Homo sapiens: one gene and its partners. The protein of the gene in region 4 purifies or fractionates together with the protein of the main gene of each other region. This does not show direct contact. Each region holds a gene or a part of one and is shown on either strand. Other genes may lie near its edges. The genes, in order: ATP2B4, MKLN1, CD47 and LILRB4.

Evidence for each region.
Region 1: the proteins of LILRB4 (region 4) and ATP2B4 purify together in Homo sapiens (co-immunoprecipitation; 3 studies listed by BioGRID and IntAct, with this or other methods). This does not show direct contact.
Region 2: the proteins of LILRB4 (region 4) and MKLN1 purify together in Homo sapiens (affinity purification with mass spectrometry; 2 studies listed by BioGRID and IntAct, with this or other methods). This does not show direct contact.
Region 3: the proteins of LILRB4 (region 4) and CD47 purify together in Homo sapiens (co-immunoprecipitation; 3 studies listed by BioGRID and IntAct, with this or other methods). This does not show direct contact.

What each region holds. Positions count from the first base shown.
Region 1 is NC_000001.11:203,622,084-203,629,854, reverse strand, and holds the start of ATP2B4 (plasma membrane calcium-transporting ATPase 4), read right to left. Parts: upstream 3,024-7,771; 5' UTR 2,636-3,023; intron 1,919-2,635; exon of another isoform or gene 1,774-1,918; intron 1-1,773. UniProt on the Homo sapiens protein: Calcium/calmodulin-regulated and magnesium-dependent enzyme that catalyzes the hydrolysis of ATP coupled with the transport of calcium out of the cell. By regulating sperm cell calcium homeostasis, may play a role in sperm motility.
Region 2 is NC_000007.14:131,491,871-131,497,150, forward strand, and holds the end of MKLN1 (muskelin), read left to right. Parts: 3' UTR 1-4,762; downstream 4,763-5,280. UniProt on the Homo sapiens protein: Component of the CTLH E3 ubiquitin-protein ligase complex that selectively accepts ubiquitin from UBE2H and mediates ubiquitination and subsequent proteasomal degradation of the transcription factor HBP1.
Region 3 is NC_000003.12:108,088,011-108,095,762, reverse strand, and holds the start of CD47 (leukocyte surface antigen CD47 isoform 1 precursor), read left to right. Parts: upstream 1-4,731; 5' UTR 4,732-4,854; coding exon 4,855-4,900; intron 4,901-7,752. UniProt on the Homo sapiens protein: Adhesive protein that mediates cell-to-cell interactions. Acts as a receptor for thrombospondin THBS1 and as modulator of integrin signaling through the activation of heterotrimeric G proteins.
Region 4 is NC_000019.10:54,658,209-54,665,990, reverse strand, and holds the start of LILRB4 (leukocyte immunoglobulin-like receptor subfamily B member 4 isoform 1 precursor), read right to left. Parts: upstream 3,007-7,782; 5' UTR 2,958-3,006; coding exon 2,924-2,957; intron 2,460-2,923; coding exon 2,424-2,459; intron 2,238-2,423; coding exon 1,953-2,237; intron 1,806-1,952; coding exon 1,506-1,805; intron 1,193-1,505; coding exon 1,142-1,192; intron 862-1,141; coding exon 811-861; coding exon of another isoform or gene 803-810; exon of another isoform or gene 784-802; intron 177-783; coding exon 60-176; intron 1-59. UniProt on the Homo sapiens protein: Inhibitory receptor involved in the down-regulation of the immune response and the development of immune tolerance. Receptor for FN1. Receptor for apolipoprotein APOE. Receptor for ALCAM/CD166.

The DNA of each region.
Region 1 (7,771 bases), on a different chromosome or scaffold from region 4:
TGGGCGCTGGGAGTCCCAGGGGTAAGACGGGCTGTGCTCCTTTGACTTGACCTTGAATCTAGAGACTTGGTGGTAAATGGAAGGGAGAAGGGTCTGAGGCTCGGCACAACCTGGGAGGCAGGAAGCCTCCGTTCGCCGCTCGGTTCGCATTCTCCACGGAGTTCTCAGACTACAGCAGAGCCCGGGAGGGTGGAGCCCAGCGGCGGAGAGGCTGGCGGGGCGGGGTCGCAGAGGCCGCGGAGAGCACAGGGGCCGCAGGGTTGCGCAGTCAATCCTGCCCCGAGCCCCGGGGGAAGGGCTGAGACTGCGGGAGCCGATTACCCCTTTGGCCGCGACCCCGGGCTCAGGCGACCCGGTGCGCGCTAAATAACGACCTCACGGAGAAGCCGTCCCCGAGCCCACCAACATCGACCCCTAATCAGATTACTGAAAATAGGAAGGCCGGCTGCAGGAATAGCTGCACTCTGAGCCTCCACGATGGGAGGCCGCGGCGAAAGCGGCGTGATTTTCGAGGTTGCACCTCAGCAAGATGGTGGCAGGGAGGATGGGACTCCCGAGGAGGAGTATAGAAATGGATCCCCTCCCTCCAGAACACGGGCATTAATTCTGTCTTGGGGGCCCTGCCCACTGGGGAAGGCCTCATTCCCTTCTCGAGCAGAACACAGGTAGGGAAGAGCTGTCTAGCCGAGGGGTGCAGTCAGATCAATCAACACCTCAAAGTGAAAATCAAATCGTTCCTGTTGCATCCCCAGCCCCGAGATGAGCTCTCCTCTAAGTGTTTTACTTCCTTCTCCCGCAGTGTCTCAGCTGTAGCCTTTACCACTCCTCCAAGCCCTGGGGCTGAAGGCAGGTGTTTCCTCTCCCCCAGCCTGATTCCCACAGATTTGTCTGCTTCAGGGTTTAGGGCCCACCTTCCAGAACACGCCTTACCAAGCTGCCACCATCCTTCCTGCCCCTCCCAGAGTCTGCTCCCCAAGCCACCACCCTCAGCCAAGGAGGGTAACTCAGCACATGGGCTAGGAGGCCTCTTCCACTCCCCTTCTTCCTAAACACTCCTGGCCCAGCCCCTCGTCACTCCCAGGCTGCTTTCCTGGGCCTGGCCCAGCCTGGAATGAGCCTGGTCTCCTTCCTCCAGGTAGAGGGCTCAGAGTGGAGGGGGCGTAGTAGGGCCTCCAATGGGAAGCGCGTGGAGAAGGGGCAGCTTGGGGAGGGGCTTAAGGAGCAGGGCCAGGGTCTCTAGACTCCCTGCCAGACTCCTCACACAGAGGAGGGGGGCGCTGCAGAATGGGATTTTGTTTCCCTTCCCTCCCCCACTCCTTTCCCCTCTCCACAGGGGCCTCAGTTGAGTACCGGCCTATTTCTTCATCTGACATTCCCCCTGCCCGGCCAGCAGGCGCCGGCATCACGTCTGCAAGTTATTGTTAAGTCCGGCAGGAATGCCCAGGAGGGACGTGCCTCTGGCAGCAGAGTGCCCACTCCCCTCCCAAGATGCGGCTGGCCACTCCTGCACCCTCCACACCCAGTTGGAGAAGAGCGGCGGGTACCCTCAGGGAGGTGGAGGAGTGTAAGAGGCCAGACTCGACTCGGGGAAGGATGCCAGCAGCCCCCTCTACCAAGAGCGAGCCAAGTATGTAAAAGAAAGAGAGAAGGGAGAGCAGGAAGGACAATCCCAGTCTTAATTCCTAGCTCTTCAGCAAGCCAAGGCAGTGGCCCGAGACGCTCAGGGATCCTTCCACAGATGCCTGTGGCCCACCCCATCTGCCAAACACTCACCAGCCCCACAGTGTCCAGCCTCGACATCGGAAACTTTTCAATTCACCCTTCTCCTTCCTCCCCTTTGGGACCAGAGATGTGTGGGGCGGTGCCCTCGGAGACACTCATACAGTTGGTTCTGGACGCTCACACACACTCAAACAACAGCGGTACGAGGTAACTCCCAGCTTTTTCCACAGCTAATTATACATGTGAAAGTCTGAGGATGTTTTGCAAGCAGCACAGAGAAACTGCTGAGGTTTCTCTGCAAAGCTAAAGAAATTTAATTCGTGCACTCTCCTTCCCCACTCCTGCCAACTTCTCCCAGCCCACCTCCACCCCATGGCCCCAAAGTGCCCCTCTCCTAGTTCCCGCTGCAGCCCCTCTTTCTGCTGAAGATTTCTTTGGTTCCTTTTTTTTTTTTTTTTCCATCTCTCTTTTGGGCTTTCGAGAAAGGGAACAGACACGGAAAATATTTTTGCAACAGTTTTCCATCCTGCGTCTCATTCCCAAGCCAAGGGGGGAAGGGGAGGGCAGGAACGGAATGGGTTGAGGGAGGGGAGATAAATATTTTTTCCAAGAGCTCAATTTTGGTGTCAAAAAGAGAACCCTCCATTACCCTACCCCATAGCCCAGGAATGACAAGAACTAGGAAAAGAGAGATAAATCACTTGTTCGACTATATGGTTTCTCAGAACTGATAATAGGTAAAACAGTATTTGACAAATCTGTGCACACACACATATTTTAAAAAAAATCCTCCAAACCCAGTCGCATGAAATATTCTAGAAAGAGGAAAATCGGGGAGTTTTAGAAGCCATTGAGAGAAAAGAAAGAAACAAAGTTTGCAAATCACAAGTCAATTCATTCTCTGCAAGCCTACCTCTCTTTCTAGCAAAGATCCAGGTTTCTTCAGGCGGGACTCTCCCTCCGGGTTTCCATGGATGAGGGTAGGGTGGGGTGACCACCCACCAGTCTCCCCAGTGTGGCAACCAAGCTAGAGACGCTGGCTTTGCTCTCTTGCCTTTCTGGCTAAGGCCGGGGAGTGGGCTGGGTCTCCTCCCCCTGCCCCTCCAATGGGAAGGACCTCTCAGGTTCCTGAAAGAAAAAGGGTGCAGGAGAGCTGGGCGGGTGTCTCTGATCTTGCTCTCTTCGGAGGGATGGTGCCCCACGAAGTTCGTGCCCCCCCTCCCAGCCCCCAGCTTTGGACGATCTCAACAGCAGAGCTTTCTTAAGAAAATGCTTGTCATGGCAACAGCTCTAGCTAACTCGGGCCAGACTCTTGCTCACCAGCTCTCCCCAAGCAGTGCGGGAAGAGAGAGGGGAGGAGCAGGAGCTGGAACAGAGGTGGGACTTGGCGCGAGGCCAAACCATTACTCTACTGTTAAGGTGGCCCGATTCTTGCGGTTACTTCCTGGTTCGTCTTAAGGGGGAATGGGAAAAGAAAGGGAAGCAATCCTCTCCCCTGTCGGCTTTCTTCCCCGCCCTTGCTCTCACTTGTTGAATAGAAAGCTGAGTAGGGGTGGAGGAGGGGTGAGGGTGGAGGTGGGGAGTGGATGTGGGTGGCGGTATTCAACGGTTGCTGGGCGGAGGGGAAAAAAAAGGAAGCTTGGGCAGGCGGCTGGCTTCCTGCAGCTCCTACGGGCCTCTCAACCCCTTACTCACTTAGATCCAGGACCCAGAAACCCGAGGTGTCTGTGGACACTTGTATGTCCCCTCCTACCTTCCTGCTCCTGTCTGAATAGGGGGTTCCTTGGAGAAGGAGAATAAATTGTTTTGTAAACACACACACACACACACACACACACACACACACACACACACACACACCCGTCCTCCCCTACACCTTATATACAGGTCACATTTTGTTCCCTCTTGTCCCTGTACCCACCAGAGGTATACTGACAGTGCATGAAAATAGCTGCTTACTTTTGAGTCCTGCTATGCGTGGGCTATGACACCAAAAGCTTTGTCTATATGGTATCGTTTCTAGTCCTCATTTAATCTTGAAAGGTACTTATTATTAACCTCATTTCCTAGTTGAGGGAATTGAAGATTGAGTGTCTGGCCCAAGGTTATACATCCGGCTAATGACAGAGCCAACGATTCAAGACCAAGTCAGACAGACTCCAAAGCCCGAGTACTTTCCTGTACTTTGTATCATACTCCGGCACATATTTCCGTTTTAATTTGCACACACTCAGACATCCATGCACACTTATACACAGCCTGTAAACAGTTAATCACACCCCCATACCCACACACCCACTAGCATTGTGCAACAGTGCCACCCATAGATTTTGCATAGAACTTTATGGCTTTCAAGCACAAACATGCACCATCAGCTGGTTCACACAACATATCTTCATTGACTGACAGATTCCCACACCTACCTCAGCAAACACACTCATGTTTATATGCTTATGGAAGGCACATTGACATATGTCTCACAGGTTATAGCTATGAGCTATGCTGTGAAGAAGGTGACTGGCCACTACTTCCCAACCTTTTAAACAGAGGGTTGGGAAAAGGCCTCTTTGATCCTATCATTCTAACCCAACAGCTCACACCACCCCCTGTCCTTCTTTGCTGTCATCTCTGCCCCCAAGAAGCAGAGCCACATGTGCATGGAGAAACAGGGTTGTGAAACGGGGTCCAGTTTCCCCCGTGTCCAACTAGCACCCTTCCCAATGTTCTCTCATTTGGGTCCTCTTTTTCCTCTTCATTTTCTTACCCTGCTATTTCTTTTTTCTTTATGGTTTTTTTTTTTTTTTTTGAGACGGAGTCTTGCTCTGTTGCCCAGGCTGGAGTGCAGTGGCGTGATCTCGGCTCACTGCAAGCTCCGCCTCCGGGGTTCACGCCATTCTCCTGCCTCAGCCTCCCGAGTAGCTGGGACTACAGGCCCCTGCCACCACGCCCGGCTAATTTTGTTTTTGTATTTTTAGTAGAGACGGGGTTTCACCATGTTAGCCAGAATGGTCTCGATCTCCTGACCTCATGATCTGCCCGCCTCGGCCTCCCAAAGTGCTGGGATTACAGGCGTGAGCCCCCGCACCCGGCCAGTAATGTTTTTAGACTGGTTGGGCTGGGCTCAGAACTCAGAGTTCATCAATGTGAGGCTGGAGATTGCCTGCTGTCATCTGAAAACAAAATCCAAAATAAGCCCTGGCTAGGCACAGTGGCTCATCCGTGTAATTCCAGTACTTTGGGAGGCTGAGGAGGGAGGATCACTTGGGGCCAGATTTCAAGACCAGCCTGGGCAACATAGCAAGACCCACCCCATCTCTACAAAAAAATTAAAAACAAGAGAAAAAAAATAAGCCCCTGCCTGTGCTTGTGCCTCTCCCTGCCAGCAGCCGAAGAAAGTTGCAGGGGTAAGGGGAGATTTTAGGGTCACCCTCTATGGGAACTATGGATTGTTTGGTCTTTTTTGTCTAGTGATTGACTGTCTGACACTCAAGGCACTTACAGGACACTAAAGGTGACCTTTGTTCTCATTTCAGCCTCTTGCAACTCCTCTAGTCACTCCCACCTTCCCAGGGCATTTCAAGAACAGTTAGTACCTTGTTAGATTCCTTCCTTCCTCCCTCCCTCTTCCCTCCCTCTTCCATTCCCTCCCTCTTCCCTTCCCTCCCTCTTCCCTTCCCTCCTTTTTCCCTCCCCTTCCCTCCTTTTCCCTCCCCTTCCCTTCCCTTCCCTTCCTTTCTCCCTTTCTTTCCCCTTCCTTCCTTCCATCTCCCTTCCTTCCTTCCCTCCCTCTACCTTCCTTCCTTCCTCCCTCCCTCTTTCTTTCTTTCTTTCTTTCTTTCTTTCTTTCTTTCTTTCTTTCTTTCTTTCTTTCTTTCTTTCCTTCCTTCCTTCCTTCCTTCCTTCTTTCTTTCTTTCTTTCTCTCTTTCTTTCTCTTTCTTTCTTTTTCTCTTCCTTTTTTCCGTCCTTCCTTCCTCTCTTCCTTCCTCCCTCCCTTCCCTCCTCCCTTTCCTTCCTTCCTTCCTTCTTCCTTCCTTCTTTTTTTTCATTATGGGTCTCCCTGTGTTGCCCAAGTTGCTTTTAAACTCCTGACCTCAAGTGATCCTCTCGCCTCAGCCTTCCTAGAAACTGGGACTACGGGCACACCCTACAATGCACAGCACCCTTGTTAGATTTTGGTAGACCCTAGCAAAATATCAGCTTCAGGAGCCCAAATCAATTGTTGGGGAAGACATGAGAAAGAAAGGAAAAGAAATGAATCAGCTTAACAGAGCTGCAGATTTAATGGCTTGTCAGGCTCCCTGCTGGATGGCAACAACATGACATTTTAGCACCAATGAGTGTCAGTTGCATCTTTATCATAAGAAAGCCAGTCTCTGAAATGACTGTTTAAATGTATTAAAGTATATTTTAAGCTCGTCTGCAGTGGCTGTGTGTGGAGGCATTGCCTAACTGTTCAGTAAACTTGTCTTGGGGGAATGACAATTTAGGCCAGATGTATGGTCCCAATAAAGAAGAAGTCTGCTTTGGCTGCCTGTTTTGTGGGGACTGGGAAATGATACCCTTTCATAGCTGGTTATTATTGGAAAGGTAAGATCTTCCCCTCAAGCTCCCTGGATTCCAGGGAGACAGGCTCTGCCAGGGAGGTGCTGTCAAAAGAGGCTCTGATGGCTGTCCCACATCTGGCTGGCTAGGATTCAGGGGCAGGCCAGGTTTATGACTTCCAGGGTGGCTGTAGATCCTCCCCTTGACCGGCTGTGGGGTTGTGGGATGAGAAAAAAGGAATCCCCCTCCCACTCCATTCCCACCCCAGCTCTGCTGCAGACAGGAGGGAGGGATGTCGGGGGGTGGGTCAATGTGACCCCAGAGGAGCCGAGGGGACCATAGCCTGATCTCTGTCACTGAGCTGACCACTGAGGCCTGTGTTTTCTGGAAAGCTAGAAGCCTCAGTGCTTCGCTTCTTGCAGCGGCAGGTTTGAGGTCTAGAACGGGTAAAAATAAATCTATCCATAAAAATAACCACTAGATGTGGGAAAATGGAGTTGGCCCCCCTGGGGCAAGAAGGAGGACACTGCCTCTGGCATCAGAAGTTCATAGTCTGCCTGTTCTGCTCAGCTCTGAGCAGTCCTGTTTCCCTCTTCTCCCTGCTGTACTCTTGACTTTACAGGTTCCTGTTCTTTAGATCTAGCCTGGCTCTCCTCAGCCTCCTGAACTCCCCATAGCAGGTCAGTCTCTACAGGGCTTACATCACTGTGGACCCTGTCCCTACCCCATCTCTCACTTGAGGAAAATGCAGTCAGCACTGTCTCTCACTTAGGTGTTTAACAGAATGTGTTCCTCTGCCTCTTGATGACTCCACCTTGAGTTTTCCAAATCTTCCTCACCATTTCCTGTACCTCCCCCGAATGCAGACTGCATGACTCCCTGTTGTGAATATCTACCATTTTGCCTTGGCTAGAACAGCAGCCATTTTCCCCATGCCCGAACCCAGTTCTTTGGGACGTCCTTTCTTCTCACTGTTAAGATGGAAACTGGGCCAGGCATGGTGGCTCATGCCTGTAATCCCAGCACTTTGAGAGGCCGAGGTGGTTGGATCACTTGAGGTCAGGAGTTCAAGACCAGCCTGGGCAACATGGTGAAACCCCGTCTCTACCAAAAATACAAAACTTAGCTGGCACGGTGGTGCGCGCCTGTAGTCCCAGCTACTCGGGAGACTGAGGCAGGAGAATCGCTTGAAACCAGGTGATGGAGGTTGCAGTGAGCTGAGATTGCACCACTGTACTCCAGCCTGGGTGACAGAGTGAGACTCTGTATCAGTAAATAAATACATAAATAAAAATACAAAAAAAAATCACTGGGCATGCCTGTAATTCCAGGTACTCAGGAGGCTGAGGCCCGAGAATCACTTGAACCCCAGAGGCTGAGGTTGCAGTGAGCTGAGATCGTGCCACTGTACTCCAGCTTGGGTGACAGAGTGAGACTCCATCTCAAAACAAAACAAAACAAAACAAAAAACAACAATTGAAACTGACATTTTATTAGCAGTCCTAA
Region 2 (5,280 bases), on a different chromosome or scaffold from region 4:
GACTTCCTAGATTTTCTGTGGCATTCTGTAGGACATTGTATTGCTTGGAAAAAAAAAGATCAAAATCATTCTGGGGCAAATGCTCTATTATCCTTATTTATGACAAGAGAATAATGAAATTCATAAGAAATTAATAACATTCAGATATTGCTATAAATGTACTTGAGTCATTTTCATTTGGGGATAGTAATAATGGCTGTGGCAGCTTTAATGGAGAAACCTGTGTTGGCCTCTTTTTCTGGCATTAGGATCTCTTGTCATAGAACTATTGGTAAAGTACAGGTTTGATAGCAGAGTTCCTGAATTCAGCATATCATCAGAATTTCCATTTACCTTTTGTCTTTTCTTTTTATTGTATTTTTTAACCTTTTTGTTTCTATTCCTACCTCCCATGAGTAACATTGATTTCTGCTGAAGTTAGAATTTGTGTTAAGAATTGACTTTAAACTTCTGAAATAGTTGAATATTAGAAGTGGCTTCAGTTGCCATGAAATGATTGCTTTTCTTTTTCTTTTTTTTTCCTTAAATAAAAATAATGCAGCCTTATATATGTCTCTTCCCCTCAAGAATGTGAATTTAGGCTGGGCATAGTGACTCACGCCTGTAATCCCAGACCTTTGGGAGGCTGACACGGGAAGATTGCTTGAGCCCAGGAATTTCAGACCAGCCTGGGCAACACAGGAAGACTCCATCTCTACTTAAAATATTTTTGTTTTTTAGCCAGGTGTGGTGGTATGTGCCTGTAGTCCCAGCTACTTGGGAGGCTGAGGTGGGAGGATCACTTGAACCCAGGAGTTTGGGGTGCAGTGAGCTATGATTGCGACACTGCACTCCAGCCTGGGCAACAGAGCAAGACCCTGTCTCAAAAAAAAAAAAAAAAAAAGAATGTGAATTTAGCTCCAATTCCAAATGACTAACTCTTAGGCCAGTCATAGCCAATGAAATCATCTGACGGTAGCTTCTGTAGCCCTTAACCTAAGGAGTCATTAGAGGTTATAGTAAATTAGTTTCTCTAGTGGTGCAGAGAGAAATGCCATCGGGGAAATTATCACTGTCTTTTTGGCTAAAGTTTTATATTGTGAACTGGATCCCACTTAACAGCTTAAAAACACAAAAATGAAAGGGTAGTCCTAGTTTATCTTCTTAATTAGAATCATTATTTGGAAATAAGATTTGCAATGTGCTGTCTATCCCCAAACACTGCTGAGCTTGCTGGAAAACAGAATTTAACATGAATGTTGTCTGAAAGCTGTAGGATCAATGGCAAAAAAGGGGAAATGTTTGGTAGGGAATTGGACCAGTTCTAAGGTATCACTTTTAATTATAAAATAATGTCTTCCTTTTTATCTGCTTTTCAGACAGCCTCAGTGAACTATTAAACATTTGTGTGCAAAGTCCTATTTTGCTTATCTAAGGCATTTTGACTTGGAAGTATTAAACTTCAGGAACGAGCTAGAGAAGACAATGAGGGTATGTTAGAGAAGGAAAAATAGGAGCTTTTTGCTTATGGATTTTAGAGGTCCACAAATCGAAAGGAAAAATAAATTTCTTCATTTCTAACCCTAAAATAATTTTGTTAATGAGATGCTGGGAAGAAGACTACCAAAAGGCCTCAAAGCTCATGCTTCTAGAATATTCAGTAATTCTGAATAGTCTTTGGGAAGTAGCATTTCTTGGGAAGTAGCATTTCCCTTCTTCCAAATAACTGTTTGAGATCTTAAAACAGAAAATCCAGTGTTAATGGGCTCTAGATCTTAAACTAGGTGAGCAGCTTCTTACATACAACCAGTTCCTTGTTAAGGATCCAGCAGGAAAACCAGCCATAAAACATTTCAACATGCAGTTTGGGGGCTCCCTTGCTTATTCACTGAGTTTAAGCTCTTGCTGCAACATAGCTCTGTACCATCTGGGATGCTAGCAGTCACAGCAGTTAGCTCAGATATCTGAGCTGTCTGCCACACAAAGCCTGAGGAGATCATCATTCTTCAGTTTCATTCATTACTTAATGAATGCCAAATTAATTGGCAGGAAGAAGAAACACTGTGTGATATACTGAACAAGCCTGTGTGCATGAATAAGGAGCCACTCAAAAAGCCAATTTTGAGCTTTATTTCTCCGTTGTTAACAAATCTCAAGAAAGCCTTTGTTACAGTTTAGCTCATGTCATTTGGTTGGTTTTATTTTCTAGCCCTTTAACATAGGAGGAAAATTGTCATTTCATGTATAACTTGTAACACAGAATTGAACTGATACTAGTTTCCTTGCCTTAAATTAATTATATGTCATCCCAAGGGTCTCTGTTAATTCTGCTTTGCCAAGCAATAATGAGATCTGGGTTTGGCATTAGAAGTATTTCATAATTTTGGTTTTTTATTTAGGTTTCCTCCACATCTGTAAAGTGATTGATTAAATTAGAGGAGGCGTGTAGAATAAATCCCAATCCCATTGCAACTGGCAGAGCTTTATAAATCTTTATAAATTCAGTTACAACAAAGGAGAGGATCCTACACCATTAGAGCCATGCCATCAGGTGTTTGCAAGTGACAGCTGTAGTGTGTTGCCTCAAATAATACCAAGTTATAAATAATACCAAGTAATTATCAACTCACTCCCAAATTTAATAAGATATCAAAGTCCAAAAGGTTACTTAGGAGTAGTCTTCCGTGGGGGAAGATAAATTTATTAAAGAGTCATGTACTGATCTTTTTCTTGGGATTTTTTTTCCTTTCCCAGAAAAAAAAATTATTTTGGTGACTGATCAATTGTAAACAATTTTCTTCCTTACTTACAAATCATCCGTTCAGAAAAATAAAAGTGGACTTCCTTTCCTAAGCATTACAATTAGCCTGGGCAAGAGGTGTTATGATTGTCTTATTCTTTAAGCCGGCTTACTTTTTGGATTTGTGTGAAATGTCTTTTGAAAAGAAAGTAGATAGTATAGTATTAATTAACTACTTTGTATAGTCTTCTGCATAATTTAGAGTTGAAAATAATGTAACATTTTCCTGTGAACAGATTCCTTTATGCGTACATACTTTATAAATATACATACATACACATACACATACATTTTTAAAATGCTCTTTTTAAAGAGATTCTTATCTTGCTCCCACTCCAAAAGCTATGTACAGTTGAGTTATTAGCCTCAGAGGAAGAGTACAGGAAAGCGAAGATGAGGACCTCCTTTTCTTGTGTTGGTCTTGGGAACAAACAGTATTCCGTCTTTCAAATATGGCATATTTCTAAACAGTTTGGGAAAGATGTTAGAATTTTTTAAAAGTCAGCTCTTTTATAAATTGGAAGTACTCAGTAGTCAGAAATTAAGATCCCCTCTGATAGAGATAGATTCTCAAAACCAAAATTGGACTGAAAATTAGATTGAGAAGAAAGATACAACTTCCTCCATAGCCAATAAAATCTGTCTTTCCAAGTCTGCTTATTAATGCTGTGAATCGCTCCTTCTGTTTGTGAAAACATCTCCTGGACTGGAAATGTGGTGCTGTAACCAGCTGAGCCGAAAGTTGGAGAATGTTAAATATCTTATATGGGACTTACGATAAAATGTATTGATGTTAGTGATTGTCAAAATAGGTTTATCATTTAAAAAACTAGGAAATTACTAAGTATAAAGAAGAAAAACCAGTATTAATTAAGTGATGAGACCTGTTCATTTTGTTTTCCCTGACTTATTTCCATTACCAAACATAGTAAAGGCCAGAAAAGATTAAAAAAAAAATTAACACAGCCATTCCATTGTTTTTTACCACATGGAGAAAGGACCAGGCTGGAAGCATATGTCCCCCCACCCTTATTTATATTCCTTTGAGCATTGCCGTTTTCTAGACAGACAATCCGAAAATAATTGTGTTGATAGGTCTGTTTAAGCCTGAACTCTGGGTGTAAAATGTTATCCAGAAGCTATAGGGAGCTGCCTTGCTCAGGTCATTGGAAATTTCAACCCTAAGACTCATTGGAATTTCTAAGTCCGTTATGCACCATTATGGGCATATGGAGCATATTCATACCATGAGGAGGAGTCTTTGTTTATGATGGACTTTTTAATATGGCCATAATTAAACTCACACTCAAAAAGGATGAGCTATTGTCAAAAGCCAAAAGAAAAACAGACAAAATGAACATGAAGCAAGGAGTCCATAAAACAAGAGTTCTTTACCACGTTTAAGCAAATGTCTCTCAAAAAAAATTGTATTTCTGTGCACATTAGCTGAGATTCACACATTTTGCACCTCAGTAGTATTTCAGATGAGACTCAATGTGTGGAGAAAACCGCTAACTTGTTTGGTTCTACTCTTACCCCCTCTTCTGTGGCAATGTGGGGTCAGGGCCGTATCCTAAAGTATCCACATGGTCTTAAATGGAAATCATGGGACTCTGGAAAGCTGGCATGAGCTGGTTGGAGCTTTTAAACAGAAGTGCTTTATGGGTATCAGATCTCTTCTGACATCAATTGTTTCAAATCATTGTTGGGCTCTGTCGTGTTCTGCAATCTTCCCCATTCCCCTCATGATCTCTGGCTTATCTTTTATCCAATCTGTATGGACTTTTTAGGATTTTTTTTTTCTTATAGTACAAATAATTTTCAGATCCCAGCTTTGGTAAATGTGTTAATTCTACTTTGTGAATAAATAAATGAGTGATCTGCTAAAAATGGCAATTGTAGAATTATGTTGTATGTAATGTACATATGGAGAAAGAATGTATTTTGTTCATTTTCTTAATAAAATGTTATATATGGATGCTACAAGATATCTCTTGTATTTGCTCAAACTACTTTTGAAGTGAACTTTTAAAATGTTTTTGTACTTTACAGTTGTGTTTTTTCCCCCAGAAAGGTGAGTTTTATTTAGGCTTCCAAAAGGAAAGTGATACGCTTTCGAAGGGCCTTTGGGTGTTTTCCTTTGAGACGGTGCTCAGATGAACAAGTACCGGCCATGCTCACAAAGTTTCTGCGGGGAGGCTTCCACTTATTTAAAGACCACTGGTAAATTATTTCATGAAATGTTCTTCTATCTACTGTTAATGACCACCCTTATTTTATTTGCTTTGTCCACTTGGACTTATGTTCCTCTTTAAAGGGGATATGCTTGTACAGGCTGGAACTAGAAGGAAAGACTGAACTGAAATGGAAAATTCACTGTAGAAAAGATAGTAAAGGGAGAGAACCTAGAAGTGTTGCAGTTTGGGAAAATTCTGGATCCCTGTCCCCATTAAAGGGGAAAGACACTTTATGGGCCAAATCTTGAAAAAACTAAGCTGAGA
Region 3 (7,752 bases), on a different chromosome or scaffold from region 4:
TGGTTAATTTTAGGTATTAACTTGACTGGATTAAGAGATGGGTGCTAAATCATTATTTCTGAGTGTGTCTATGAGGGTATTTCCAGAGGATATTGGCATGTGAGTTCGTGGACTGAGTTGGGGAGATCCTCCTTCAATGTGGGTGGGCACCATCTAACCGGCTGGGGGTCTGGATAGAGTGAAAAGGCAGAGGAAAGGCTCTCTTGCTCTCTCTCCTGGAGCTGAGACACCCTTCTCGTCCTGTCCTTGGCCATCAGAACTCTAGGTTCTCCAGCCTTTGAACTCTGAGACTTGCACCAGTGGCCTCCTGGCTTCTTAGGTCTTCAGCCTTAGAGTGAGAGGTGCACCAAGGGCTTCCCTGGTTCTGAGGCCCTCCAGTTTGGACAACCATGCTACTGGCATCCCTGTGTCTCCAGGCTTACAGATGGTCTATCGAGGAACGTCTCAGCCTCTTTAATCACATGAGCCAATCCACCTATCTCTCTATCCTATTAGTTCTGTCTCTCTAGAGAACCCTAATACAGACATGCAAATATACTCAGGACAAATTTCATTTTCTCCAAGCTAATGTGATAGAAGAGGAAACTATTATGTAGAAACAAATATCTACTGACACATTTTGTTAGCAGTATGAACAAAGCATCATGGGAGAGATAACTAGACCTATGAAATGATGGAGAATCATGGCAAAGAGGAAAAGTAGGGTTGAGAAAGGCTTCTTGGAGGAAGTGATATTTGATCTTGGCCTTGAAGAATGAGCTAGAATTCTCTGAGTTGAGGAGCAAAGAAGAAAACATGAGGGAGCATTATGAGAAGCAGAGCAAACAGCGTAATTGAAGCACAAAAGCCTGAAAGTAGCATAGTCCAGGCATGGAATAATCCAGTGTTGCTAGTGTTGCCTGACCATGCAACAGATGTTAGTTTGCATTCCATTGGCCAGAAGTATTAACAAGTGAAGAATCTTAATTACAAAAAAAAGCACATATTCAGAGACACTAAGAAGAAAGAGATAATACTCTGAAACTACAACCAGCTGATGACTGATAAGTCAAAATTAGGAATTTAATGATGCTAAGAACCTCTAATATGTCAGGTCAGCTCCAAGGTTAGTTCAATAGTTTCATTCACATATGTTGGCCAGGCACGGTGGCTCACGCCTGTAATCCCAGCACTTTGGGAGGCCAAGGCGGGTGGATCATGAGGTCAGGAGATCGAGACCATCCTGGCTAACACGGTGAAACCCCATCTCTACTAAAAATACAAAAAATTAGCCGTGCGTAGTGGCGGGCACCTGTAGTCCCAGCTACTCGGGAGGCTGAGGCAGGAGAATGGCGTGAACCTGGGAGGCGGAGCTTGCAGTGAGCCGAGATCATGCCACTGCACTCCAGCCTGGGCGACAGAGCGAGACTCTGCCTCAAAACAAACAAACAAACAAAAAATAAAAGATAAAACATATGTTTACACAACACCCTTTTATGCTAGGTGCTTTGTCAGACACTGATTGAAGATATGGTTCCTGACCCTGAGAGGTTTATTTACTCATTCAGTCATTCATTTATTCACTCATTCTATTTATTCTTTTAACAACGATTTGTTGAGTACATACTATGTGTCAGGCAAAGGGGCTAGCAGTAAAGAAGACTCATATGGTCCCTCCCCTCATTGAGCTTACAGTATAGGAAACAGTTATTACTGAACACGAAGACAGCTATATAAACATAATTTCAATAAAAGATGGTAACTGATATGCACCAAAGTAAGACTAAAACACAGAGAAGTGCACTTAACTTATACTGGCATTATCATGGGCCTTGATTTACTGTGGGATCCTTTGCTGTTATGTTCCCTTACGTTGAAAGATGCATCTGGCCCTACACAAAGCACAGACTATGAGTAGGTAGGCACATACAGTTCTAAGCCAACCCCTTGGGGCACCAGGAGACAGCACTGTCTCATGTCGTTGCATGACACACCACCATGGGGCAAAACATTTGCTGAATGAAGTTACAATAAGGATACAATTGTATCTACATAAACATTTAAAGATACTATCATATCAATACCTACTATGTGGCAGGATCTTGATGTTGTGTGGGGAGGAAGATAAAAGTAGATGTATCGTTGAGACAGAAATGAGGGCAAGGGAAATTTTTTATGCATTGAGAGAGGAAGTTTGTGAATTTTTTCGCTGGCCATGGAGTCAGGGAGACTTCAGTCCAACCACCGTCCCTCCCTGAGCTTGTGACCAAGCCTCACTTTCCTTATCTATAAAGGTGACAAGAGTGATTTTTTTAAGTTTATTTATCTGTAAAGGGGAAACTGTAGCAACTTTGCTATTATAGGGTAAAAAGAAAAAAGGATGAAAACCAGAACAAGGGAGAGAGACAAGAGAGAGAGCAGTGTCACTTATAACTGTGGGCAAAGTGCTCACCATTCCTCTTTCCCTTTGTTTCCTCATCTCAAAAAGGGAGATCATAACATTTATCCTTTCTGAGGTTGTTATGAAGATTAACTTAGGTGATATAGCTAATGTGTACTTCCTGTGTTCAAAACATTCTAATATGTATTATCCCCTCCCTCTCTACCCAAGAAACTCCTTACATACAGATAAGATGAGCTCAACATCCAAATTAAAATGCTTTGAAAAGTTAAAAGGCAAACCTTTAAAATGATTAAATACTGAAAAGAGCTTAAGGTTATCTCAGAGAGAGGATAATCAAACCTAGGCAGGCTGCTTTGGACTGTCTCTCCTGGGATATGCCTGCTTTTGCCCCACCACCAAAACATACCCCAGCTAGATTCCCAAGAGCAGCAGTGGTCACCCAGGTGGCCTCTCATTCCATTTTCTGCACAAAAAGACGTTAAGCATATAGCTCAGTAGCTCCCAGTGTAAAACAGAACATCACCCGATCTCCACCTCTGAAGGTTGGGGACAGTCCTTTCTAGTCACTCTTCAGCTTTAGGGGGGTTGGTTGGTATCAGGGACAGCTGACAGCCTTATTTAGCCAACCAGCTGCTCTGTGATACACAATGTCCCTAATGCTCAAAGTCTGGTGGATGATTCTTTTGTATCCACATAAGCAGCAGTTGGAGGAGAATCGATGAGTCCCTTTGGTTGCCTCGGGGTGTCAAGGCTGCCATTCAAATCATTACCACCATAATTATTAACCATTGTTTTAGTGAGATGTCTGCCAGGCAATTGTTTTTATTTTTCAATCATTAAAAAAGCAATCAAATTTCACTAGAGCAATGCCTGCCTCACGCCGCATCAACACATTTATTAAACCCCTTCTGTTTGCCGAGCTCAATGGAAAGTCTTGGAGGAGGGAATACTTAAAATGCTCTCGGATTTAAAAGAATTGATAATGCTGTGGGGAAGAGGTTCACACAAAAAAGCAATTACAGGAAGAAGCTCGATAGTATACAATACACTGGTACAGAGTGTCATAGACAGTGCCACTTTCATACGCTGGATTTTATTTCTGTGGCAATGGGATGCTTGGGAGGAGCCGCACTGTGTAGAGGATTTGGAGAAGTGGGGTATTGTGGTGGGAAATTGCTTTCTTTCCCAGGAGGTAGGAGGAAAACAATCAAGGAGGTGGACAGGATGTGCACTCCATTAGAGCAGCCACCAGAGCCTGACTTTTTGATAAGAGAGTACATCAGTTAGGATAACGGTTAAAAGTATCTTTAAAAGACTTTTGCTTCAGGATGAATGATGTGGCCTGTGTGATTCAGCGATAAATTCAAAAGCCTTGTCCCTATTGTGGCTTGCGGCCACATTTCGAACCCATTTTTCAAGCATGTTAAACCCAAGCGCAGCGCAGAGGGCTGCACATGGGGCAGTCACAAACCAAGCTCAATAACCTTGCTGGTGGGGATGTGTTGGATACGCTGCTAATGCCTGTTTGCGACAATGCTCGCTAGTCCCGGTGGTGGCGGTGTTCACAGGTAACAATGTTTACCACCGTGAATGGAACTTGTTTGATTAACCCTGATCAGAGGATGAAAACACTAAAGAACCAAGTGAGAAAGAGGGAAGAGAACCGCATAGGGAAGAGCAGAGCGAGTAGACGAGCCGAACGCAGAGCCCGCGAGGGGCGAGTGGAAGCTCCCTGCGGGCAGGTACCCGACCACCGCCCTGCCCTGGGCGTGGCGGCCTCGGGCTCAGGGACCGCTTCGGCGCTAGACGGCCGCGTCCGGAGGAAACGGGCGCTGGTGAAAGCCTAGGTGTCCTGGTCCACGCGCGCAGCCGGACGTCGGGTCCAGGGAGAGACGCGGGCTGGGGCGGGACGGGACCCGGCCCCTGAAGCGCGAGGGTGGGAGTGAAAGCAAAGAGGAGAAAAGTAGAGAGAGAGGACAGTGGGGCCCAGCGCCGCGCGAAAGGCAGGAACCGACCCGCGGACAGGAACGGGTGCAATGAGGTCCCCGGCGAGCGTGGGAACACAGGGTTCAGCCTCCTGCGGCGGGCGAGCACGCGGACCCCAGGGGCGGGCGGGTGCGACAGGACGTGACCTGGAAGCGCGGCGCGTGCCACCGCCCTGGAGCAGGCATCCGGCCTCCGTGGAGCGGGCAGGCGGGCCCCGGGTCTGGAGCCTGCGACTGGGGAGGGCGCCGCGTCAACAGCAGCGGTTGCGGGGCGGGGCCGAGTGCGCGTGCGCGGCTCTCGCGGGCGGGGAGCAGGCGGGGGAGCGGGCGGGAAGCAGTGGGAGCGCGCGTGCGCGCGGCCGTGCAGCCTGGGCAGTGGGTCCTGCCTGTGACGCGCGGCGGCGGTCGGTCCTGCCTGTAACGGCGGCGGCGGCTGCTGCTCCGGACACCTGCGGCGGCGGCGGCGACCCCGCGGCGGGCGCGGAGATGTGGCCCCTGGTAGCGGCGCTGTTGCTGGGCTCGGCGTGCTGCGGTGAGTGGCTCCTCGCTCCCAGCCCTGCGGCTGCTGTCGCTTCGCCCCCGCGGGCGTGTGGGCTGCGCCCCAGCCAGCCCGGCGGCGCCCTGAAGAGGGTGGCCGGGGCGCAGAACACTCGGGCCCTGAGCGCCCGAAGTGCAGACGTGGGAGGGCCCCACGGGGAATCGGGCGCCCCCCTTCTTCCTCCCTTCCTTTCCCTGGTCGTCTTCTTCCCCCTGGGTGAGAGCGGGGCTCATCTCCTCCACCCGGTTCTCCATCTCCAAATGCACACACACAGGAAGACTCCAAACCGCGCACCTCGCGCAAAAATTAACTAGCAAGAAAGGGCGCGATCAGAGGCAAGGGGCTGCAGCTGCTAGGGATCCCCTTCTTTCGCACCCCTCTCCCTTCTCAGTGCTTAGACGCATTTGGGGTTGAGGGAGGGAGAGTGGGAGGGCCCGGGCCTCTTGCGATGGAAGTGCGCATTTTGGCGAAGTCGGTGAGAAGGGGTTTCTGCCGTTTGCCTCCCACATGAACATAGGAGCGAAGAGGACGTAAAGGACACAATTAAGTTTCATTTTCAACTCAGCATTCAATCAGAAGAATCTTCCGGCCGTGTAATTTTTGCTGTCGTTTTTAATCCTAAAAATAAGCTTGCTGGAAACTCTTCCTTTCTCGTGACCCTCACGCCCCATCAGCCACTTGCATACATTCTAAATTGTACGTTGAAGTTTTTCCCACTTTATTTGGGGGAACCGTTTTAAAAGTAATCTGGTTTTCGCCTGAAATAGGAAGACAGTAACCTCCAGTCAAAACATGTGCAGCAGAATGGGATTTGGTGTTTTTCGACGCCAAAGAACCTCCACCCCCCCACCCCCACCCCGAGCTTTTGGAATCCATTTCGCTTTTGTAAAACGTGTGCTTCGTCTGTAAAAACTGAGCAAGGAATAGAAACATTCGTAGCTCTACAGTGAGTGCCTGTCACACTTCACATCCATAGAGCCTTTTGTGAACTTTTATAAGATTCAGAATTCAGCTTGAGCACCAGTGACAGCAATTGTTACATTTATTCTAGAATGCTAAATTAATTCGATTTTAAACTGATTATTAGCCTCGGTGTGCCGTTCCTAAAGGCTTGTGACTTTAGGTATTTCCAAGATGCCCTTAAGTCTCTGCTTACCACTTTCCTCCCTCCCCGAGCATCCTGGATGTTGGGACTGTGAATCCAGGTCTCCGTTATCTAAATGGTTGATGTTAGTGTTTCCTGTCATCACGTTTAGTATGCTTGTTGCCTTTACTATCATTATAGCTAAAATAATACTGCTTTCAGAGATGTGTTGTATAATCGCATAATAATTTCAGAACGCCTTCATATTGAACCAGATATGAAGTGATACAGTATCATTTATTCAAACTGCCTAAAAAGTAAAAAGTATAAACCATATACTATTTTTAAAACAGGTAGGTTAGATTTAAATCACGTAGTTTAGAACTGTTGGAATGGTACTTTGAGTGATAGGATTTATGTTAGGCCTTCTTTAGTAATAGTTAATATCATGTAATTAGCACTCGTTTACACACAATTTTAATGTGTTCGAATCCCTAGAGTCATCGAATTCAGAATTTATAGTATTTTATTTTACTTAGTTAATATTAACCTAAAAAAAAAGCAAAATACAGGCATTATGCAGTTGAGTTGTGTTAAGTGTGGACTGTAAAACAGGATAGTATTTGTTATAAAATATGTTTTTGTATGTGTTTAATATATAGCTTCAAAAGGACATGTATGAAGAAAGATGTCTCAGCACATAGGTAGTTATAAACCAAGGGTTTGAGAGACTGACTTTAGAATCTAGAATGAGTAAGAAAGTGATGGATCTGTACATTCATTTGTATTGAAGTTTGATTTTGCTTTCAGTTTCGTTAATTAAGCCCCGGGAATCAGGGACCTTTCCTGGCACCCTCTACAGTGTTAGTGGCCTTTGTGGTAAAAGAAGTTATCTCAGATACTCATTTCATGCAATTACAGGCAAACTGGAAGGCACCTTAATGGTATGCAAGATGTGAAATGAATTACTATGTTGCATTCCACTCTGCCCCCACTCATGTACAATTATACTTTGTTTAAAAGTGCATAGTTTCAGTGGTATTTATTAGCTAGCAAATAAAACTTTAAATAAATAATGATGGTGTTGTGAACTGTCTTTTCAGTGGTTGAATGATTCCTCTTTGTTCAAAATGAGTTGTTTTTTTTTTTAAATCAGGGTACATATGATTAAATAAAATTTTTTTCCATCGTCTAAGTCTAGTAGTAATTTGGCTTGTTTAAATAAAAATGTTTTCTCTTAAAGAATATATTATTTTTAATTACAAGTTGCCATTTTAAGGAAGTAAATGCCTATTTAAAAGTACGTATTTATGGGGCCGCCCCAGCAGTCTAGAGGCAGTGTTTTTTAAAGCATTACACTAAATGCCTACCATTAGGACACTTGCTCATGCTGTCATCTGTGTTTTGGCAGATGTTTTATCTTTGTCACTGAGTTGTTCATGGAGATTTGAAAGGCCAAGTTCTAAAGATGAGAGATAGATGACTTTCCCCCCAAATTGATACATATTCTAAATCCAAAATAATCACGCATATTCGCAAAACTAGATTTGCATTTCATAGTATGAATTCAGCTATAGCTAGTATATAGGCATTGCTTTTAATATAGTAATGTTCTTTTTGTGGCATAATTTTCAATCACTTTCCCTGTCTTAGGTTTCTGCCTACCTTTTTATACAAGATAAACATTTCTATTTTCATATCTTATCTCTCAGTCTGATTTTAATAATATCGTCTTGGGTTATCATAAAGTTACTTTCACTTT
Region 4 (7,782 bases):
TGGCTGGTGCCCTGAGCCCACCCTCCATCAGCCCACGGGTCCCCCAATTTCCTACTTACCCAATGTCCTGTGTTTTCCCTGACGCCAGTGTTGGAGGAGGAGGAAGAGGAGGAGGGAGAGAAGCAGGATGGAGACCACCAAGACCCCGATCAGTACCTCCCAGTGCCTTCTCAGACCTTGGGCGTGATGACATCAGGAATGGGGATGATGTCATTGATGTGCACACCTACTGTGTGTGCACCTACTGTGTGTGCTGGGTCTTTCTTTCATTACCTCCAACCCTCACAGCAGTTGTGCAACCTGAGATTGCCACCCTCTCTCCACCCATTTCACAGATGCACAAACTGAGGCTCAGAGAGGGGAATCGCCTGCCCCAGACCCCTCCAGCCAGGAAGCGGCAGAGCTGGGAAGGAAACCCGGGAGTCTGAGCTGCAGCCCTTGTTCCTGCACCAGAGCCAAGCCCCAGAGTTGCAGGGAAAGAGCCTGACTGTCTTGAACCACCGCCCTGCTCCCCTCCCCTGCCCCAGGTCACCGTCTCTGCTGCAGGTGGGACCGGACAGGCCCCTGCGGAATCGGGTCTGGGAGGTTCCCTGGGAGGCCTCCTCTCCCAGGAGGGCACAGCTGGGAGTCAGAGCTGAAAGGAACTTTCCCACCCGCAGGCCTCTCTCCTTTACACTTGGAGAAACTGAGGCCCATGCAGGGGAGGGGCCTGTCCACATCACCACCTCCAGAGGAGCCTTAACCTAGGACAGAACCCACCCTTGGCTCCCCTAGACCCTGCCCACCTCCCACTCAGAGCCCCTCACTCACCACTGTGGGGGACTGACCCTGTAGGCATGAGGGGCTGGTCCTCAGGGCCTGCTGGGTTAGAACAGGGATGTGAGGGCTGGGGCTGCCCTGCTCCCCACATCAGCTCGGCTTCTCCCCGCAACATCTCCTTCAGCCTTGACCCCCTCACCCCTCACCAGCCCAGCCTCAGGGCCTTGGGAGCCTGTGGTGCCTCCCAAGTCGCTGCCCGACTCCCACACCCGTGGAAGCAAGCCCAGCTGAGAATTGGAACGAGGACTTAGATCCACTGAGCATGTCTTGAGACAGGCCTCGGGCTTTGGAAACTCTCTGGACAGAGGCCTCTGAGACTCACCAGCTGTTGAGACGGACCTTGTGGGTGAGGGCCTGGGACCCTCCAAGGATCCTGGGTAGAAGGACAAGAGGAGGGTGAGAGTCTGGGGTTGCCCTTGGGTCTCCACATCAAATTGAACCTCTCCCTATATCTGCCCTGCAGCTTCCCAAGGACCATTTCTCTGTCCACCTGGCACCTTCTGGACCCTAGGTGAGGGAGAAGAGCATGGGCATGCCTGGGAGGGCCCCTGTTGTCCTCCTCCCCTCTGAGGGCTGAGTCCCCCACTGGCTGAGCCCCTCTCCCTCCATCCCTGCCCAGAGCTCTCCTGGCAGCAGGGCATGAACGGAGCCACTGAGCTCAGAGAGGACAGGGTCAGGAGCCTCACCTGAGACTATGAGCTCCAGGGGGTCACTGGGGTGTGACAGCAGGTAGTGGGAGAAGCCGTGTGAGCTGAAGCACCTGTAGGTCCCCCCGTGCACTGAGGTCACAGGACTCATGGGGAATTCAGCCTGGTGCTGCTGAGCTCCGTGCTCTGATCTCAGATGCAGTAGGGGATGGGCTGCCCGCTCCTTGATCAGAAGAAAAGTGTCCATTGGGCTCCGTGACTGACACAGCAGGGTCACGCTCTTTCCTGAGGTCACAAGAGGACTCGGCAGGGCTGAAAGGGTGGGTTTACTGTAGGCTCCTAGGAGAGAAGGAGGCACCGTGTTAAATGGGGCTCCCACCTCCCACATCATCCCCAGGGCTGGGCTGTGAGAGGGAGATGCCCCTGAGAGCTGACCCCCTTCCTGAGGGCAGAGCCTGGGGCTGGGACCCCTGAGTGTCCTCTCACCTGTCATCACCAGCTCCAGGGGGTCACTGGGCTGTGACCAGCCTACAGGGCTGCGATAGTAACAGCGGTATCTCCCTGCATAGTCCTCTGTCATGGATGGGATGGAGAATCTGGCCTTGTTCTTGGGCTCCAGTGGGTTCTGTCTGTCCCAGGGTGCTGGGCTTTCCTCTTTATCCAGACGGTACTCCCGAGCCTCCAGGGTCCCCTGACACCAGATGGTCACAGAGTTCCCCCAGCTGATCACAGAGCCTGGCTCAGCCCAGAGGGTGGGTTTGGGGAGGGGCCCTGGAAGAAAATCAGAGGCTGGATCCCAAGACCTTCCTCAGCCCTCAGATCCCAGCTCTCAGCCCCAGGACCCCCCCGTCATCCTCATCAGTCACCCAGAACTGCTGTCTCCTCCCCCAGCTGCCCATGGGTGGCCCCTTGTCCCAGTGAGGAGGAGGGACCTGGGACAGCTGGGGACAGACTCACCTGCCTGCATGTGGGTCCTGGGGCCCAGACTCAGCCCTGGAAGAGAGTTCCCTGTGAGGGATTTGCCCCGGAAGCCTGAGCAGGTCCTCTCTTTACCCTGAGATTTTTTTTTTTTTTTTTTTTTGAGACGGAGTCTCGCTGTCACCCAGGCTGGAGTGCGGTGGTGCGATCTTGGCTCACTGCAAGCTCCGCCTCCCGGGTTCACGCCATTCTCCTGCCTCAGCCTCCCGAGTGGCTGGGACCACAGGCGCCTGCAACCACCCCCGGCTAATTTTTTGTATTTTTAGTAGAGACAGGGTTTCACCGTGTTAGCCAGGATGGTCTCGATCTCCTGACCTCGTGATCCGCCCGCCTCGGCCTCCCAAAGTGCTGGGATTACAGGCGTGAGCCACCGCGCCCGGCTACCCTGAGATTTTTGAGTCTCCTAAAGAACCAGGGCCTGGCTGTGAGGCAAATTTCCTCCAAGACTCGGGTCTCCCCTCCCCCTCTTTAAATCTCACCGAGGCAGAGCAGAGCCGTGAAGGTGGGGATCATGGCGTCTCCTCCCAGGGGCCCCAGCTGTGCAGATGGATGAGTCCTCAGTGCCGGCAGGACAAAGAGACACACAGGGTGTGGCCGCTTGGAGGCTGGGTCCTTCTCGTCATGGGGTTGTTCCATCAGCAGCCCACAGGAAGGGAAACTGCCCTCATTTGAACCCCAGCCTGGCTTTCATTTCCCCAGAGCTAGGGCTGAGGCAGGCACCAGGTTCTCTGCAGACATTTCAGACAGAAATGGGGTCTCTCTGATCCCAGCCTGCTGTCTGCCTGGTCTTAATTCCTCTCTTGACCAAACATCAACCCGTATGTATCGTGTGTTTGCAAAGCGCCTGACACTGGGGGTACATCATTGAACAAGTGAAAAAAAAAAAAAACCAAAAACCTGCATTTTCAGGGTACAGATGAACCATAAAGCTTCCTTTTGCTGCCATAACAAATCACCACAAGCTTAGTGGCTTCACATAATGTAGGTTTATTGACTTACCGTCCCGGAGGTCACAAGTCCAAAATGGGTCTCCCTGGGCTAAAATGAAGCTGCTATCAGAGCCGTGTCCTCCTGGAGGCTCCAAGGAGAATCTGTTCCCTCGCCTGTTCAAGCCTCTGCAGGCTCCCGCATTCCTGCCTCTCCATTCCCTCCAACCTCAAAGCCACCAGTCCCGTTATCTGCCCCCTGCTTCCATGCACTCACCTCCTTCTCTCACTCTGACCCTCCTGTCTTCCTCTTTCACTTACTCAGCCCCTTGTGATTACATCAGGCCCACCTGGGTAATCTCCCCAACCCAAGATCCTTGACTTAATCACATCTGCAAAGTCCCTTTTGCCACATAAGCTTCCCCAACTCACAGGGTCTGGGCCTCAGGAGGTGGACATCTCTGGGAGGTCACTATTCTGCCTCCCACAGGCCTTCAGGGACTCCTTTAACCAAATCTCACATAGAGCACTTCTCTGCGATGACGGAGAGTGGCTGGGCACGCCAGTCGAATGCTTGGTGGGCCAGTACGCAGCCAGGTCATGGTCGGCTACTCATGTCCCATGGGACCTGCCCACTTGAGGCCAAACATTCCATCTCCACCAGAGCCCGGTAGACATCTAAAAACTGTGTCGCAAAACAAAACTCATTCTCTGCAGCGCTAGCACGATGTAGCTCCAAAATATATATATATATTTTTTCTTTTCTGAGATGCAGTCTCACTCTGTCGCCCAGGCTAGAGTGCTGTGGTGTGATCTCAGCTCACTGCAACCTCCGCCTCCTGGGTTCAGGAGACTCTCCTGCTTTAGCCTCCTGTGTAGCTGGGATTACAGGCACCCGCCACCACTCACAGCTAATTTTTGTATTTTTAATAGAGATGGGGTTTCACCATGTTGGCCAGGCCGGTCTCGAACTCCTGACCTCTGGTGATCCGCCCATCTCAGCCTCTCAAAGTTGCTGGGGTTACAGGCATGAGCCACCACGCCCAGCCAAGCATAGATTTTAAATGTTTTCACAGATGTTAGTATGCGGAGTGATGGACATGTTAACTGTCTTGATTCCATCATTCCACAGTGTATACATTTATAACACATTGTACCCCATAAATATATATAGTTGGTGAATTAAATATTTAGTAAAATTATTTTGAAAAGGAAAAAAGCCATAAATACATAACAAGCAAGCAAAAAGGCCAGATAGCTTCAACCCTTAGATCACTGCCTGTGTAAAACACTTCAGGTGGCCAGCTCTCAATAATCATCCATTTGAGTGGGCACGTCCTGCAATGATCTGGAATTGTAGTCTGTCCTAGATGGTGACTAACCATTTTCTGTCTCTGTTCTTCTTAAAAGGATGAGAGGACCTTCTAACTTTAGAACTGAAACATAGGGTGGGAGGGGAAAGAGGAAGCAGAAAAAACAAACCCCAAATTAATTGTATCTAACGGTCAGGAAGGCAAAGAAGGAGAGGCTTGCAGGAGGCTGAAAGTCAAAGTGCCGGGAAACGCATGAACACCACTGCCCTCAGGTTTCCAAGCACCTGCTTTTAGTACCTCATTCCGTATCCTTTTGGGTCACTCTCAGAATCACGGGACAGTATCTCATTTCGAGGATTTCCATGTGTCTCTCCACATTTGTGTGTAAGGACCTTATTGGAAGCTATTTCAGCCAAAGCTTGATGCGTCTGACAGTGGCTGGGGAAAAAGAAACTCCCAGAAATGGGGGCTAGAAAGCCATACACATATTGGCGAGTATCTCCTGTTTTGGCGGGAAGTTCTGGATGATGGTCTGCACATTATCAGAGATCCTGGTGTGGACCTGTCCATATTACCTGCTGTAGTGGTGTCCGCAATGCATGCTGATTTCAGGAATTCCTCTCCTTCTCTCTTTCATAAGGGAACCCTATTCCCTTAAACTTGGTTCCCAAATCAGTTACCTGCGCTCATATCCTTGTCTTAAGTCCTGCTTTCAGAGTAACCTGTGCTAGGCAAGGACTGGGAAATGCCAGGAGGTTTTTCGATGTCATCACCCCTTTTCTAACCGCTCAACATGCCTTGCCTTTACCAGTCCTGGACTTCTTGTATTTTGCTTCTTTTTTTTTTTTTTTTTTGTGACAGGGTGACACTCTGTCATCCAGGCTGGAGTGCAGTGGTGCAATCTTGGCTTACTGCAACCTCGGCCTCCTGGGTTCAAACAATTCTCCTAACTCAGCCTCCCGAGTAGCTGAGAGCTGAGATTACAGGCAGCTGCCACCACACCCGGCTAACTTTTGTATTTTTAGTAGAGATGGGGTTTCACCATGTTGGCCAGGCTGGTTTCGAACTCCTGACCTCAGGTGATCTGCCCGCCTTGGCCTCCCAAAGTGCTGGGATTACAGGCGTGAGCCACCGCGCCCGGCCTCATTTTGCTTTTGTATTCGTGCACTCACCACTCAGTAAATCTTATCCATCCTCACTTAAGAAACATTTAAACATGTCAACCTGTGGCCATCCCAGGACACAAGAGATAAAGGCGAGCAAAGCAGATATACTGGATTCACAGTAACCCAGACTTCATTTCAAATTACCTCCCCTCCTAGAAAATCTAGCATCCTAGCAAAAATTAAGTTGATAAAATCACTACGCAAAAAGTTTAGAGATAGGACCAGTCCCGGGAAGGAAAGATTTAACGCAATAGGACAGGATAAAAGAAATACCCACTGGGTCCTGCACTCACCACCTGGGTGCAATAGTTCCATGTAGCAAACCTGAGCATGTATCCTCGTATCTAAAATAAAAGTTGAAGTTCAAAAAATAAAGAAGAAAAACAGAAAGCAATTGAGATGGAGGGTGGTGAAGAAGCTGAAGGAGAGGTCAGATGGTGATGATGAATTGGTATTATCTGAATGAAGGGATGCCTGGAGGTGGAGAGAGAAGCATTGCAGGAGGTCCTGGTCATAGGTATTCAAACGGGTGGATCCTAAAGCCTTACAAGAAGTAAAAAGACCACAAGAGTCGTTCATTCATTTCCAAGTATATTTCACTCTAGAGTCAAGCTTTTGTGAGATACTGAAAACAGGACCTAGTTGGAATGAATCATAAATTTCCATCTTAACTTGGGGTCACGGGTGTTCTGTGATTCATAAGAACCCATGTTTCATTGTTTCGTTTTCTTTTTTTTTATTATTATACTTCAAGTTCTGGGATACATGTGCAGAACGTGCAGGTTTGTTACATAGGTATACACGTGCCATGGTATTTTGCTGCACCCATCAACCTGTTGTCTATATTAGGTATTTCTTCTAATGCTATCCCTCCCCCAGCCCCCCAGCCCGTGACAGGTGCCGGTGTGTGATTTTCCCCTCTTCGTGTCCATGTGTTCTCATTGCTCAACTCCCACCTATGAGTGAGGACACGTGATGTTTGGTTTTCTGTTCTCGTGTTAGTTTGCAGAGAATGATGGTTTTCAGCTTCATCTGTGTCCCTGCAAAGGACATGAACTCATCCTTTTTTGTGGCTGCATAGTATTCCATGGTGTATATGTGCCACATTTTCTTTATCCAGTCTATCATTGATGGGCATTTGGGTTGGCGTATTTGATTTTATCCAGGGTTCTACAGATGCCAAGGAAGGGGTGCAGCTCTACTTAAGTTTACCTCTTGGTCTCTCCTTGGGACCTCCTCTGACTGTGCCATGCCTGAAACACCAACCCCTCTGTCACCACCAGGATCAATTGCAACTGCTCCATGCACATGAGACTACTGCATAGTCTGGGAGCAGTTGGCCTGGGGACAGTGGGATTGGAAGACCATGGAGGGTAGGAGAGCTCGCAGTCCACACAGCAGCCAGAAGGGAGGATATTTCAACATTCTCAAATCAATAGATATGATATCTCATGTCAACAGAAGGAAGAACAAAAAACATATAATCATGGGCAGGCGCGGTGGTTCATGCCTGCAATCCCAGCACTTTGGGAGATTGAGATGGGTGGATCACTTGAGGTCAGGAGATCGAGATCAGCCTGGCCAACATGATGAAACCCCATCTCTCTCAAAAATGCAAAATATTAACTGGGTGTGGTGGTGTGCACCGGTAGTCCAGCTACTCGGGAGGCTGAGACAGGAGAATCTCTTGAACCCAGGAGGTGGAAGTTGCAGTGAGCCAAGATCGCGCCACTGCACTCCTGCCTGGGTGAAGGAGAGACCCTCTGTCTAAAAAAAAAAAAAAAAATTATATGATCATCACAATAGATGTTAAAAAAACATTTGACAAAATTCAACATCCCTTCATCATTAAAACTATCAACAAATTAGGCCTAGAAGAAACACACCTCAACAAAAAATCCCCAGATAATTCCATTAACAAGTATGCAAAGCA